Linked DNA regions of Homo sapiens: regions 2 and 3 are each linked to region 1. The links come from fine-mapping of genetic effects on gene expression. A gene starts in region 1. Each other region holds a variant in brackets. All regions are shown on one strand. Distances are from middle to middle. Region 1 holds the start of RNF40 (ring finger protein 40). Region 2 overlaps SRCAP (Snf2 related CREBBP activator protein). Region 3 overlaps PRSS36 (serine protease 36).

Region 1 (5,327 bases):
TCATTCTGGAGTCTGCTATATACCCAGTGTGATCCACCAGCTGTCTTGCCCATTTCTCATGACAAAGCCAGGAGTCTTTATCCCCACTGCACAGAGAAGGAAACCAGCTCAGAGAGGGGAGCCACTTTCCCAGCATGTCCAGGTGAGGGTGGCAGAACTAAGGTGGGAGAAGCCTGTCAACCTACAAGGCCTGAGCCCTTGAAGCTATGCCTTGTGGATCCGCAACCCACACCAAGTGCTCCAGAGGGGCCTCTGGCCAGGAGCCTCTACCGGCATCAACAACTCCTCCAACCCATCTCTCTAGCATTCAATCCCGGAATCAAAGTTGGAACCCCCATCTACAGCCTAACCTACCTCTTCCAAGAACATGGCTGATTTATTCCTTGGGAAATTCTGGCCGCCCTTGGACTCGGGCATTAGGGGAATCAGGAAGGGGTGCCATCAAGATGCAGGTGGGGATGGACACCCCTTCAGTATGGGCACAAAGAACCCACCTCGGCTGTACACTCGCTGACAGAGTTCCTCCACCCGGCGCTGTAGGCGGTCTGAGGCCTCTACCACACGAGACACAGCTGCCTTGGAGAACTCCATTCGGCCTTGCAGCTCCAGCTCCACCTCCTCACTGCTGCTGGCACCCAGTGCCACCACAAAAGCCAAGGCCGGCTCACTGAGAGGGGGCCGCAGCTGCATCAGCAAGGGGTCTGGAAGGAATGGACAGACCCTCATGAGGATAAGAGCAGCAGTTACTACCACTCTGTACCAAGTTCCAGACTGAGCCCTTCAATACTCATGGTTCACTTAATCAACACAACCTATAGTGCACTATTATCTCCATCCTGAAAGTGAGACAAATGAAATTCAGGGAGGTAAAGTAATTTCCTCAAAGCTACAGAGTTGCGTATCACATCCTCAGGGAAGCTTCCTGTACTTTACCAATATAATTAGAATCACACGCACATGCATGCACACACAATCATTCCGTTTCAGGAGCCCCAGTACTTTCTGCTTACTATGTTTATAATTTCCTCCCTTATAGCAAGTGCAACACTCATTTCTAGGAAGCGTCAAATACATATTTAATACTCAACCATAATACTGTTTTGAAACAAATGGGTGTCAAAACATGAATTGCTCTATAAACCAAGTTAGTCAGAGTCTAAAGCCTGTGTTTTTGTGCACTGCACTTTACTGCCCAAACATGAAATCCATTTCGTGAGAAGTAGTAAGATAGGCAATTCAGGGGCCCAACACCAAAGTCCCCTCCTCCCCAGGACTTCTCCCAGAACTTAAGCTCCCCAGATCCCAGCACTCTGGTCCTACCTCTCAGCTCTGATGTCCCCGGCTCTGGGAGAGGAGTCCCATCACATGTTGGCCCCTCCTGGGTCCCAGGTGCCTCAGGCGCTGAAGACAGCTCCCCCTGGCTCTCATGGCATCGGAGAAGGGCTTCCACAGTTTCATCCAGCTGGAAGGAGAAAACATCAAAAATGTTATGAATCCCTTAGTGCTTTCCAACATGATACTCCTTTCCTAGCAGGGGAATCTGGGGATTGGCAGCTGAATCAAGGCCTGGTCTTTGAAAGCAGAAGGTATCCACCTGGGCCCAGTAGCGATTGACGATGAGGAGTGTGGCATCATCTGTGGCCTGCCGCTTCTCCAACTTCTCAATTCGTTCTCGGAGTTCATCTTCACAAGCCTGCCGTTGTTCCAGCCGCTCTGCCAGTTTCTTGTTCTTGAACTGTAGTACCTTCAGGTCCATCTCCTCCTACCAAAGGAAACAAAGGGGCCGACGAGAGCGTCAAGCAGGGCCCACAAACCAATCACAGAGAGAGAAAGAGGAGCAGAGCATCTGCAATGCATGGGAGATGGAGGTATTCCCACACTAACCGCTAACAGAATCTAAGGAGGCTCAGACAACACACAGCGAAAGTGTCTTTGTTGTGAGGAGGCTCACGTTGTTTCTGCCTGTCCCCTTGTAAATCCTTAGTCTTTGACAAGTCACACGCCCCCTGGAAACCTGTTTTCCTATCTGTAAAGGGAAGACAGGCGTCGTGTTCTGAGCTTCTTTCTAACCTTTCTTTCAAGGTCCTGTAACGCGGACCTTGCTAAACTTGGGGAAGTGGGTGTAAGATTCCGCACAGTTTGGCCAGAGAACAGAGGGAGGGCTCTGGGAAGTTCTGAGGGTTAAGGCAAGAGCCCACGAACCGTGGAAGAGATGCCTCCAAGACGAATGGGCTCGATAAGAGTCGTGGTGGTCTTCTCCTCACGACTCAGCTTCTTTTCCGGGGGCCCTGAGCCCCCGTCGCCGGCGGCGCGTTTGTTGCCTGGCCCAGACATGGCCGCGGCGGCTGGAGCGATGCAGGGTCCCCTGAGGGGCGTCAAACGGGAGGAGGCGGTACTTCCGTCACCTGCAGAAGACACAGAGCAGAGATGTGGGAACGGCTGGTGTTCCACAGCCCCAAACACCCTCCACCCTGCACACACCTGCTGGATCCCGTCCCCCCCGGCGCCAGAGCCCTCACCAGCAGGAGGGTCAGCCTAGCGCCGCCATCTTGGATTTCACCGGACGTCACTGGGCGTCACTGGACGCCACTGCCCCCCCCCCAACGGTGCGCAGGGCGCAGGCGCCAAAGGCAGCCCCGGATGTGAGGAAACTTCTTTATCTTCTGCTTCTATTGGTTACGCTTGGTCCCGCCACTCGGGTCCTCTGGCTTCTTCCCAAACACCTCCTCTTTCTCTCGGTGATTGGCCAAGAGGCAGTTCCCATAGTAACTGACACCGCGCTCCCACTTCCCAGCCTGGAGGACAGCACCGGCCCTCGTATTAGCAACCTGGAAGAGAGGGCGCCCAGGTGGGCACTCGCAACTTCTCACGTATCTGCGCGTTCTCTTCGCTCCCACTGGCGTGAGCCTGCGCTTTCCGCCTTCCTTCCCTCACAAGCCCCCTTGGCAACCGTCGCCGTTGAGACGGAGGGAGACGCCCCCACGGATTCGCCCCGCCGCGCCTCTCCGCGCGTAGATTGGCCGGAGCGAGGCGAACGGGCCCGGCCTTGGTAGCCGCCGACCGAGCGCTGGCTGTCCTGGAACCTAGGCGGCGGGAGCCCGGGGCGCCTCGCGGCACGGAAGAGCGGCGAGATGCTCAACCGCAAGACCAGCCACTTTTTGGGAATGAGGGTGCAGTCGGAGCTTGAACATCTCTCCGAGCTGCGGCGGGAAGCGGGGAAGGATCGCAGCTCAGTGCATGGGTCGGCCGCGCGGACGCGTGCGAGTGTGCGGACTCAGTGGACGACGGCGGCGGCGGCGAAAGCGGATGAAGACCCCGGAGCCAACTTGTTTCCGGTGAGGGCGGGACAGTCTGGTCTGCTCGTGAATATTTATAAACCGGCTCCCCCGCAGGCGCCACCTGTCATTATGCTTACTAACGTTCGGGACGTCTCCCGGGCTGCTTGGGCGAGGAGAGGCAGGGGTGTGTGACCCCGGTGGTTACTGTGCTCGCGTAGAGCACCTAGGGCCTGCTGAAGCCCTCCCTCGCCCGCGCCTCTCCTTAGTCCTTGAGATGAGATGGCAAGTTACAGCGGCTTCTCCGGCCTGCTGGAGATTCGCTACGGGCCAGGACACCGCAGCTGCCTTCCCCAATTCGCTTTCTTTCCGCAGCCGCCGCTGCCCCGACCCCGGATCTGCATGTGGTGAGTGTGAAGAGACAAAAATTACACTGAATATTTGCGTTCTTTATTGTCTCCCCAACAGTCCTGTCTGTGGCCAGGGCATCCCCATTTTACAGATGAGACTGAGGCCTGGAGATGCAATTACTCCAGGTGACTGGAAGTTGGCTTTCCAGCCTCTCCAGTCCAAAGAGGAGGCAGTGTGAGAAAAAAAGAGCCAAAGACAGAATGTAAATGGAGTCTCATGGCCGCTAAGGAGTATTGTACAGAGGGGGACACTGAGGGCCACAGGGAGTACTTGACCAAGGTCATACAAGGTAGTGGCAGAGCAGAAAAAAGAATTCAAGATTCCTAACCCTAGGCTTTAGAAATGGAGAGGCTCATAAGAGTTCATTTAGGCCCAGAGAGTTAACGATTTGCATAGTCACACAGCAAGCTGGCAAAAGAGCCCAGCTTCACGCCGGTGGCCAACTCCCAGTCTCACGCACTAGCTGTCACAGCCTTGTCATGATAGGTAACGGCCACCAATACTCTTTTTCTTTTACTATAACAGGAAGTACCTGGACGTCCATTCCATGCACCAGCTGGAGAAGACCACCAATGCTGAGATGAGGGAGTAGGGACTGAGGGGGGCGTGGGAAGAGCTCTTGGCAAAGGCTGAGGGGTCAGGTTGGGAAAACATGAGGAATGGCTGACTCCAAAGCATGTGGTGGGTGTAGGGTGATGAAAGGAGGCCCAGTTGTCACTCACTCCTCTCTCCCTCCCAAGGGTGCTGGCTGAGCTGCTGGAGCTAGGGTGTCCTGAGCAGAGCCTGAGGGACGCCATCACCCTGGACCTCTTCTGCCACGCGCTCATTTTCTGCCGCCAGCAGGGCTTCTCACTGGAGCAGACGTCAGCGGCTTGTGCCCTGCTCCAGGATCTTCACAAGGCTTGTATTGGTGAGAGGGGGCAGCTACCAGGTTTGAGCCCCAGGGAGAAGAGGAACCGGGCCTGGCACAAGTGACCATGGGAAGCAGAAGCAGGGGATTTCTGCCTGGAATATGTCATTATTAGTAGCATCATCATACACAAGCCATCAGCTTTCCAATCCACTGCTTCCTTATCTAGAAATTAAGGATACAGCACACATTTTACAGGACTGTTCTGAGAAATAATATATGCAAATATATGCATAGTGCACAATAACACCTGCTTTAGAATGTTTAATAGCTCTTGCTTCAGAATGTTTAATAGCTGAAATGATCTATTTCTTGGTTTATTCCCCTAGAATATAAGCTTCGTAAGGGCAGGACCTTGTCTGTCTTGTTCAGTGCCGAAAACCATACAGTGGGCATATAGTGGGTATTCAGTATTTGTTACATGAGTTAAGGAAACAAGCCAGTGCTGAAACCCAGATCTGTCTGCTTCTGAAGCTCATGGTCATAAACAGCTGTTGAGTGAAGTGAATGAATGGATACCAGAGAGGGCCTCACTGCTGCATCTTGCTTTCCCTACCAGCAACCCCCTTGGGCAACGTGGAGGAGTGCTACCGCTACTTCACCAGTGTCCTTTTTTGCCATGGAGTCAGGGTCAGTTCCCCTGGAACATTCTGGAAACTTTACCCATCCCCAGACAAGGTCTCACCCAGTCTCTCTCACATTCATCACCCTTATCTTCTTGTGAAGACCCC
Region 2 (5,000 bases), 55 kb after region 1:
TTATTTATGTACTTTTACCCGATGTTTAGGGAGACCTTCTTTAACCAGATCCTGGGCTGGCCTCTTAGGAAAGTAAAACTAAATAACCTTAGGGGCTCACTATGGTCTAAAGGAAGCACAAAGGGAGCATGCAGGAAGAAGAGCCAGCTTCGCCTCAGGTGGAGGGAAGGTTTGCAATCTGAAGCTGGATTTTTTTTTTTTTTTAAAGAGATGAGATCTCACTATGTTGGCCAGACTAGTGTCAAACTCCTGGGCTCAAATGATCCTCCTGCCTCACCCTCCCACGTAGGTGGAACTACAGGCATGCATCACCACACCCAGCTGGAACTGGGTCTCAAAAAATAGGTAGGTGGGCCAGGCACAGTGGCTCATGCCTGTATTCTCAGCACTTTGGAAGGCTGAAGTGGGAGGATCACGTGAGGTCAGGAGTTCGAGACCAGCCTGACCGACATGGTGAAACCCCCATCTCTACTAAAAATAAAAAATTAGCCAGGCGTGGTGGCGGGCACCTGTAAACTCAGCTACTCCGGAGGCAGAGGCAGGAGAATCGCTTGAACCTGGGAGGCAGAGGTTGCAGTAAGCCCAGATTGCACCACTGCACTCCAGCCTGGGAACAAAGCGAGACTCCGTCTCAAAAACAAAAAAACAGGTAGGTGAAGCCAGGCATAGTGGCTCACACTTTGGGAGGCCAAAGTGAGAGGATCGCTTGAGCCTAGGAATTCAAGATCAGCTTGGTATGTAACAGCGAGACCTTGTCTCCACAAAAAAATATTTTTAGGCCAGGTGCGGTGGCTCACGTCTATAATCCCAGCACTTTGAGAGGCTGGGGCGAGTGGATAACCTGAGGTCAGGAGTTCAAGACCAGCCTGGCCAACACAGCAAAACCCTGTCTCTACTAAAAATACAAAAATTAGCCAGACATAGTGGCACATGCCTGTAATCCCAGCTACTCCAGAGCCTGAGGCAGGAGAATCACTTGAGCCTGGGAGGCAGAGGTTGCAGTGAGCCAAGATTGCGCCACTGCCCTAGGTGACGGGGTGAGACTCTGTTTCACAAAAAAATTAAAAAAAAAGAAATTAAAAAGAATTTTTTTAATTAGCAAGATGTGGTAGCACGCGCCTGTAGTCCCAGATACTTGGGAGATCGAGGCAGGAAGATCGCGTGAGCCCAGGAGGTTGAGGATGCAGTGAGCTGTGATCGTACCACTGCACTCCAGCCTAGGAGACACAGCAAGACTCTGTCCAAGACAATTAAAAAATAGGTGGCTGTTCCCTAAGTACACATGAGGAAAAAAGCATTCCCAGCAGCATAAAGTCTATGTGTAAATGGACAGAGATATACAAAAGAAAGGTGGGTGTGGAGTGGAAGGGAGAAGGAATGAACATGGCAGGAGGCAAGACCGAAAATACAGACGGAAACTGGGTAGTACTTAAGAAATAATTACAACTTACTATACAGGCAGTGGGAACTTTGACGGAATTTAAGCATGTGCTAAGTGGCACAAATACATTTCAGTAAACACATGCTAAATGCCCTGCAAGGGACAGATGGCCTAGAGGTGTCAAGGAGAACTATTAACAATCCCCAAAGGCAGGACCCATATTTTGCCACTATACTTTTTTATCCATACAACATAAACGTCATTAGAGTTGCCTGAAATTATATTTACTCCCTCAAGAAGTTTTGATCATTCCTACTACCACGCCATCTACCAATCTAATCCAAGGCCATTTTCCTTTCCTGATCCCCACTGTCTACCTTCTCCACATTGCTCCAGAACTGCCTGACATCCTTGGCCATGGTGGAAGCAATTCGACGCAGCTTGGCCTGCTCCTCCCTCCGGGCCCGTTCCTCTTTCTGCCGCTGCTCCTCGTGGTGCCGGATCACCATGCGCACCACCTGTGGGAATGAAGACCCA[G/A]GGTGAAAACACTCAAAGCCAGACTTCCCCACCCAAAGGCAAAGAAAATAATCAAGGCCAAGAAATCTGGAAAATCAAGAGTTTGCTCTTAATGCCTACACCATTCTGTCTGGTCCCCTTCCAACAAACCGGGAAGGAACAGACCTGAAAAGGAAAAGGAAGGAAGTCCCAGCGGAAGACCTACCTTCCGGGCCACACCCCGTTTCCAACGGCGCTCCTGAGCAAAGTCAGCAGAGAGCCACTGCATCTCTTCGCACAAATAGTCCCAGTGACCTTTGGGGCGAGGGGGCTCTGGCACCTTAGGCAGCCTCTTCAGTGACCAGAAACCCTCCTTCCGCAGCTCAGCAATCCGAGTCTCGATCTCGGCCTCCTAATCAGGGAGAGCCAGATCAATCAACAGTTCTAAACACACACTCCATCTCACTGCCACGGCTGAATTCCTGAGCACTAAGTGGGCTGAGTGTGTTATGCTTATGTTTAGTCCACATACCAAACTTACAGGCAGGTATCATACTCTCTTCAGAGAAGGGAAAAAAGATCAGGGAGATGAAGAAGGAAAAAAGATCAGGGAGATTAAGTGATTTGCCCAAGATCACACAGCTAGAAAGTAATAGAAAATGTGAATCAAAAATAGGTCTGAGGACTCCAGACAGCAAATTTCATGCTCTTTCCATTATTTAACACAATCTCCACACCCCATAGACATAGGAGAGACTTGGGAAATCATATCCCAAGAGGAGCTTCCCAGAGGAGTAGGGAACACATACTTCCCTCTTGATTCTAGATACAAGGGGTCATCATCATTGTAGAATTCTACTTACTCAGAGTATTTTCATGATGCATTAAGCTTAGAAATATGCTATAATGCCCAACTGACACACTGTTGTTTTTAAAAATACTACTTTTGTAAAAATGCATATGTTTATGTAAAAAATACTGAAACGTTATACGTGAAATGTTTAACACTGATTAGGTGTAAAAAAGAGTGGTCATTTTTACTAAAGCTTCTACACTGATTGTCTTTTATTTAAAAAGCATTTAAAATTTTTTTGACAGAGACGACTCAAAAAATTCAGGACAACTGCCTTATTTCTTTTTCTGAATCTCACTCAGAAATCTGAGTGAGATTTTTCTGGGTCTCACTCTGCTGCCTAGGCTCAGGTTATCTTCCCAACTCAGCCTCCCAACTCAGCCTCCCAGGTAGCTGAGACTGACTATAGGCACATGCAACCATGCCCAGCTAATTTTTTTGTATTTTTCGTAGGGGCGAGGTTTCACAATGTCAAGGCTGGTCTGGAACTCCTGGGTTTAAGCAATCCGCCTGCCTGGGATTCCCAAAATGCTCAGATTATAGGCGAAAACCACCGCACCCAGCCTCTGTCTTTGTTATTTCTGTCCTCTCCTGATAAAAACTAAATCAGAGAAAATGACAGCCAGAGACCAGACAGGACTAAATGGCCTGACAGTGAAGGAAACATCAAGAAAGACGTGGATATTAGACCAGCTGCTCTCAAACTTGAGGAGGCACCGGAATCATCTGGAGGACTTTTAGAAACAGGTTGTGCTCACACCTGTAATCCCAGCACTTTGGGAGGCCAAGGCGGGTGGATCACAAGGTCAGGAGATCGAGACCATCTTGGCTAAAACGGTGAAACCCCGTGTCTACTAAAAACACAAAAAATTAGCCAGGCATAGTGGCGAGCGCTTAGTCCCAGCTACTCGGGAGGCTGAGGCAGGAGAATGGCGTGAACCCAGGAGGCGGAGCTTGCAGTGAGCCGAGATCATGCCACTGCACTCCAGCCTCAGCGAAAGACTGAGACTCCGTCTCAAGGAAAAAAAAAAAAACCCAATTGTGGCCGGGCGCAGTGGCTCATGCCTGTAATCCCAGCACTTTCAGAGGCCGAGGCTGGCAGATCACAAGGTCAAGAGATCAAGACCATCCCGCCAACATGGTGAAACCCCATCTCTACTAAAAATACAAAAAATTTAGCCGGGTGTGATGGCGGGCGCCTGTAGTCCTAGCTACTCAGGAGGCTGAGGCCAGAGAATGGCTGTGAACCCGGGAGGCGGAGCTTGCAGTGAGCCAAAATTCTGCCACTGCACTCCAGCCTGGGCGACAGAGCGAGACTCCGTCTCAACAAAATAAATAAATAAAATAAAAATAAAAATAAAAAATAAAAACATTGCTGGGCCCTACCCTCATAGTTTCAAATGGGTCGGTGGGTGAGAGGTACCAAGAATTTGCATTTTTTTTTGAGACAGAGTCTCACTGTTACCCAGGCTGGTGTGCAGTGGCATCATCTCAGGTCACTGCAACCTCCGGTTCCCAGTTCAAGCAATTTCCCTGCCTCAGCTTCCTGAGTAGCTAGGACTACAGGCCTGCGCCACCACGCCAGGCTAATTTTTGTATTTTTAGCAGAGATGGGATTTTGCCACGTTGGCCAGGCTGGTCTCGAACTCCTGACCTCAGGTGATCCACCCGCCTCGGCCTCCCAAAGTGCTGGGATTACAGGCATGAGCCACCACGCCCGGCAAAGAATTTGTGTTTCTACTAAGTTCCCAGGTGATGCTGATGCTGCTGGCCCAGAGACCACACTTACCACTGGATAAATGTAATACAGACTGCACGATAGAAATAAATAGAAACCAGTAAATCTTAAGAGCATCACAGTTTACAAAGTGCTTTTGTGTCTATTTTCTCCTTTTTTTTTGAGACAGGATCTTACTCGGTTGCTCAGGCTGGAGTGCAGTGGCATAATCGTGGCTCACTGCAGCCCTGACCTCCTGGGCTCAGGTGATCCTCTCAACTCAGGCTCCTGGGTGGCTGCGACTGCTACAGGCATGTGCGACTATACCCAGCTAATTTTTTGTACTTTTTACAGAGATGGGGTTTTACCACATTGCCCAGTCTGGTCTTGAACTCCTGGGCTCAAGAGATCTGCCTGTCTCAGCCTCCCAAAGTGCCAGGATTACAGGTGTGAGCCACTGCGCCTGGCCTTGCTCCTATAACTTAAACCTCTTAATAGCCTATAAACTATTATATCATTCCTATTTTATTTACAGCAAGGAAAATGAGACTCAA
Region 3 (5,327 bases), 380 kb before region 1:
TGAGACCAGCCTGAGCAACATAGTGATACCTCATCCCAAAAAAAGAGACAAACTGGCTGGGCACAATGGCTCACGCCTGTAATCCCAGCACTTTAGGAGACCGAGGCACGTGGATCACTTGAGGTCGAGAGTTTGAGACCAGCCTGGCCAACATGGCAAAAACCCATCTCTACCAAAAATACAAAAATTAGCCGGCTGTGGTGGTGTACACCTGTAGTCCCAGCTACTCGGGAAGCTGAGGCAGGAGAATCACTTGAACCCGGGAGGCAGAGGTTGCAGTGGGCTGAGGTTGCACCACTGCACTCCAGCCTGGGAGACAGAGCGAGATTCCGTCTCAAAAAAGAAAAGAAAGAAAGAAAAAGAAAGGGAAGGAAAGAAGGAAGGAAGGGAGGGAGGGGAATTATTTGAGCTAGTAACAACAAGAATCACTTGGCTCTAATGACAACTGCAGGATTATCTTGTGTGGCTTTGAATGCACTCCCCTGGTGCTCTTGGCTCTGGCTGCCATCGGCCTTCTGCTTACAGGGATTTCTTCTGTTTAGAGCCGCAGGGAATGCAGAGGACAAGGCCTAGCCAAGGAGGGTTTCTAGGAGAAGGGAGAAGGTGGTGTATGTTGGGCCAAAAGGAGGTGCAGGACCTTTTCGAGTAGGTCCCTGGGCTGACCCCTTGACATGCAGTCATCTGCCACTAGGGTGACTCTGGGGGGCCCCTGGTCTGTGAGGAAGGCGGCCGCTGGTTCCAGGCAGGAATCACCAGCTTTGGCTTTGGCTGTGGACGGAGAAACCGCCCTGGAGTTTTCACTGCTGTGGCTACCTATGAGGCATGGATACGGGAGCAGGTGATGGGTTCAGAGCCTGGGCCTGCCTTTCCCACCCAGCCCCAGAAGACCCAGTCAGATCCCCAGGAGCCCAGGGAGGAGAACTGCACCATTGCCCTGCCTGGTGAGTGGGCGGCACCCCTGGATGTAAGCGGGACATGGGAGAGTGAGTTGGGATGGAGACTGCTGGGAGTGATTGGGTTGCAGGAGGCCCACTGACCCAGGCCTCTCACCCCTCAGAGTGCGGGAAGGCCCCGCGGCCAGGGGCCTGGCCCTGGGAGGCCCAGGTGATGGTGCCAGGATCCAGACCCTGCCATGGGGCGCTGGTGTCTGAAAGCTGGGTCTTGGCACCTGCCAGCTGCTTTCTGGAGTGAGTGAAAATCTACGTTTCAAGCCGATCCTTGCCCCTCCCTACAGCCTGAGATACCATCCATTCGGCCCCAGCCCCTCCCCAGGGGGTGTGGGGGGGGCGGGGTCCCATTCGGAGGTGTAGGATCCAGCACAAAAAGAGGGGTCCTGGCCTGGCAGGGGTGGGTAGAGGCATGGTAGATAGAAGTTCGATCCCGGAGGCGGGGGTGTGAGTGAGCTGTTGGAATGGGGGTGTCGTGGGGATCCCGCCAGGATGCAGGATCCTCGCCTGGCAAGTCTAAGCCGGGGTGTGAGGTTTCCAGCCACGTGTGCGGGATCCGGCCCACGTCCCTCGGCCCCCATCCCGCAGCCCGAACAGCTCCGACAGCCCACCCCGCGACCTCGACGCCTGGCGCGTGCTGCTGCCCTCGCGCCCGCGCGCGGAGCGGGTGGCGCGCCTGGTGCAGCACGAGAACGCTTCGTGGGACAACGCCTCGGACCTGGCGCTGCTGCAGCTGCGCACGCCCGTGAACCTGAGCGCGGCTTCGCGGCCCGTGTGCCTACCCCACCCGGAACACTACTTCCTGCCCGGGAGCCGCTGCCGCCTGGCCCGCTGGGGCCGCGGGGGTGAGCTGGGGACCGGCGCTGGGCCGGGCGGCACCGGGCGGTGCAGGGGCCGTCTGGGCCGCAGCGCGGGCTCCCTGCCTTTTCCCTTCCAGAACCCGCGCTTGGCCCAGGCGCGCTGCTGGAGGCGGAGCTGTTAGGCGGCTGGTGGTGCCACTGCCTGTACGGCCGCCAGGGGGCGGCAGTACCGCTGCCCGGAGACCCGCCGCACGCGCTCTGCCCTGCCTACCAGGAAAAGGAGGAGGTGGGCAGCTGCTGGGTAAGCGGCGGGGGCGGGGCCCGCGGAACGCGGGCCCGAGAGGGCTCTAGGAAGAGGGCGGGGCCTGTGGAAGGCGAGTCCAAGTGGGCTCTAGGGAGAGGGCGGGGCCTGCGGAAGGCGGGTCCGAGTGGGCTCTAGGGAGGGAGCGGGGCCTGGGGAAGGCGGGTCCGAGTGGGCTCTAGGAAGGGGCGGGGCTTGCGGAACTGGGAATGGGGCGGAGCCGGGGTGGAAGCGGGGCCAGAACGAGCTGGGGGTGGGGCCTGCCCCTAGAGAACTTTTGGGAGGGAGCTGAGGCGGGCTCTGAGCTGGTGCTATGGTTTCTCTCTATCTCTGGATTTAAGGAGAATCTTAAAGTGAGGGCTGAATTCTTACACAAATTAGTATTTGGAGTCTGATTTGGAGAAGGTGGAACTTGATACTTCCGCAAATGGGAAAATCTGGAGTCCTGGAAAGCCCCAGGAGCTCTGATATTCTCTGCACACACGCAGAGGCAAGTAACACACACACTTTGTTGCTGCAGAATGACTCGCGTTGGAGCCTTTTGTGCCAGGAGGAGGGGACCTGGTTTCTGGCTGGAATCAGAGACTTTCCCAGTGGCTGTCTACGTCCCCGAGCCTTCTTCCCTCTGCAGACTCATGGCCCATGGATCAGCCATGTGACTCGGGGAGCCTACCTGGAGGACCAGCTAGCCTGGGATTGGGGCCCTGATGGGGAGGAGACTGAGACACAGACTTGTCCCCCACACACAGAGCATGGTGGTGAGCAGGACGCTTTTGGGCCCTAGGGGCTCCTGGGAGTGCACAGACCCATGGCAGGGGCTCAGGGGTCAGCCATGGGGCCCCAACTGAGGTGGCCACCTCCTCTCCCTAGCCTGTGGCCTGCGGCTGGAGGCTGCTCCAGTGGGGGTCCTGTGGCCCTGGCTGGCAGAGGTGCATGTGGCTGGTGATCGAGTCTGCACTGGGATCCTCCTGGCCCCAGGCTGGGTCCTGGCAGCCACTCACTGTGTCCTCAGGTGGGTCTCACTCGTCTCCTAGGCGAGAGACGGGAGGGGAGAATGGAACAGAGCCAAAGACTTGTTTTTGTTATTTGTTTGTTTGTTTGTTT[A/GTTTA]AAAAAAATTAACAATGAGATCTTGCTGTGTTGCCCAGGCCAGCCTCAAGCAATCCTCCTGCCTTGGCCAACGTACTAAGATTACAGGCATGAGCCACTGTGCCTCACCCAAAGGACTCTTAAAATAGTGGGATATTCTCCTTTAAGCATCTTACAGCTGGGCGCAATGGTTCACACCTGTAATCCTAGCACTTTGGGAGGCCGAGGCGGGCAGATCATGAGGTCAGGAGTTCAAGACGAGCCTGGCCAACATGGTGAAACCCCTCTACTAAAAATACAAAAATTAGCCAGGGGTGGTGGCAGGCGCCTGTAACCCCAGCTACGTGGGAGGCTGAGGCAGGAGAATCGCTTGAACCCAGGGAGGGCAGAGGTTGCAGTGAGCCAAGATTGCGCCACTGCACTCCAGTCGGAGCGACAGAGCAAGACTCTGTCTGGGGTGGGGCATGAGGGAAGAATCTTACAGCACTGGGAGATGTTTTGACCTAGAAGGGAGATTTGGAAGGAGGGATGATGAAGGAGTGAGTGGCATGACCCCAGAGAGTCATCCTTCCCCTGGGCTGGGAAGGACTTTGCCAGCAATGGGAGGAGCAGAAGGTGACATTGGACCTTGTTCCAACAGGCCAGGCTCTACAACAGTGCCTTACATTGAAGTGTATCTGGGCCGGGCAGGGGCCAGCTCCCTCCCACAGGGCCACCAGGTATCCCGCTTGGTCATCAGCATCCGGCTGCCCCAGCACCTGGGACTCAGGCCCCCCCTGGCCCTCCTGGAGCTGAGCTCCCGGGTGGAGCCCTCCCCATCAGCCCTGCCCATCTGTCTCCACCCGGCGGGTATCCCCCCGGGGGCCAGCTGCTGGGTGTTGGGCTGGAAAGAACCCCAGGACCGAGGTGAGACCCCTGGGTCACGGGAACGAGGAGTAGCTGGAGGCCAGAGCCCTGGAACAACTTTGTCTCCTCTCCCCAGTCCCTGTGGCTGCTGCTGTCTCCATCTTGACACAACGAATCTGTGACTGCCTCTATCAGGGCATCCTGCCCCCTGGAACCCTCTGTGTCCTGTATGCAGAGGGGCAGGAGAACAGGTGTGAGGTACAGGGGCCTGGGCGTCCTGGAGTAGGCAGGGGAGAGGCAGTGTTGGACTACTGTACCCTAGAGAGATAGCAGAATTGGAATTTTTTTTTTTTTTTTTTTTTGAGACAGAGTCTCACTCTGTCCCCCAGCTGGAGTGCAGTGGCGCGATCTCGGCTCACTGCAAGCTCCACCTCCCTGGTTCATGCCATTCTCCTGCCTCAGCCTCCCGAGTAGCTGGGACTACAGGCACCCGCTACTACGCCCGGCTAATTTTTTGTATTTTTAGTAGAGACGGGGTTTCACTGTGTGAGCCAGGATGGTCTTGATCTGATCTCGTGATCCGCCGGCCTCGGCCTCCCAAAGTGCTGGGATTAGAGGTGTGAGCCACTGCGCCCGGCCAAGGAATTTTTTTTTTTTTTTTTTTTTTTTTTTGAGACTGAGTCTCGCTCTGGTACCCAGGCTGGAGTGCAGTGGTGTGATCTTGGCTCACTGCAACCTCCACCTCCCAGGTTCAAGAGATTCTCCTGCCTCAGCCTCCCTAGTAGCTGGGATTACAAGCATGCACCACCACACCTGGTTAATTTTTGTATTTTTAGTAGAGACAGGGTTTCACCATGTTGGCCAAGCTGGACTCAAACTCCTCACCTCAAATGATCCGCCCACCTTGGCTTCCCAAAGGGTTGGGATTAGAGGTGTGAGCCACTGCACCTGGCCAGGATTGGAATTATTGGGTATTTGGCCCCAAATGGGACCCTAGCTGGACCCGGGAGAGAAACCAGGGACCTGGATGTCTAGGGATGCAGACCAGAGTGCTTCGTGGCCAGACCCTGGGGAAAGGGGGAGGGGACCAAGAGGAAGGGCAGCAGACCCACGTGGCCTCGCTCCAACTCTGCAGATGACCTCAGCACCGCCCCTCCTGTGCCAGATGACGGAAGGGTCCTGGATCCTCGTGGGCATGGCTGTTCAAGGGAGCCGGGAGCTGTTTGCTGCCATTGGTCCTGAAGAGGCCTGGATCTCCCAGACAGTGGGAGAGGCCAACTTCCTGCCCCCCAGTGGCTCCCCACACTGGCCCACTGGAGGCAGCAATCTCTGCCCCCCAGAACTGGCCAA

What was found. PIP is the estimated chance that this variant, and not a neighbour inherited with it, causes the effect.
Region 2: its variant is fine-mapped to the expression of RNF40 in whole blood (INTERVAL, PIP 0.91).
Region 3: its variant is fine-mapped to the expression of RNF40 in vagina (GTEx, PIP 0.98).

What each region holds. Positions count from the first base shown.
Region 1 is chr16:30,759,553-30,764,879 of GRCh38, reverse strand. It overlaps RNF40 (ring finger protein 40), which reads right to left and starts at 2,558. Exons shown (of 20, transcript NM_014771.4): 1 at 2,520-2,558; 2 at 2,203-2,405; 3 at 1,595-1,762; 4 at 1,321-1,462; 5 at 495-701. The coding sequence starts at 2,334. PHKG2 (phosphorylase kinase catalytic subunit gamma 2) reads right to left here. Exons shown (of 10, transcript NM_000294.3): 10 at 3,704-5,327. CFAP119 (cilia and flagella associated protein 119) reads left to right here and starts at 2,818. Exons shown (of 9, transcript NM_001014979.3): 1 at 2,818-3,335; 2 at 3,651-3,682; 3 at 4,212-4,274; 4 at 4,427-4,596; 5 at 5,156-5,226. The coding sequence starts at 3,132. RefSeq lists enhancers at 102-602, 603-1,103, 2,240-2,349, 2,470-2,729, 2,217-2,854 and 3 more and a silencer at 3,266-3,495.
Region 2 is chr16:30,704,471-30,709,470 of GRCh38, reverse strand. It overlaps SRCAP (Snf2 related CREBBP activator protein), which reads right to left. Exons shown (of 34, transcript NM_006662.3): 5 at 2,103-2,288; 6 at 1,759-1,899. Among named protein-coding and RNA genes, the nearest start is that of SNORA30, 3.6 kb to the left of the region's middle. The variant G/A (reference allele first, on the strand shown) is at 1,919.
Region 3 is chr16:31,139,202-31,144,528 of GRCh38, reverse strand. PRSS36 (serine protease 36) reads left to right here. Exons shown (of 15, transcript NM_173502.5): 7 at 692-941; 8 at 1,058-1,187; 9 at 1,536-1,792; 10 at 1,885-2,048; 11 at 2,569-2,806; 12 at 2,919-3,060; 13 at 3,772-4,037; 14 at 4,114-4,235; 15 at 5,113-5,327. Among named protein-coding and RNA genes, the nearest start is that of PRSS8, 6.1 kb to the right of the region's middle. RefSeq lists enhancers at 1,505-1,584, 3,316-3,849, 3,850-4,385, 4,667-5,327 and silencers at 1,635-2,044, 2,095-2,384. The variant A/GTTTA (reference allele first, on the strand shown) is at 3,153.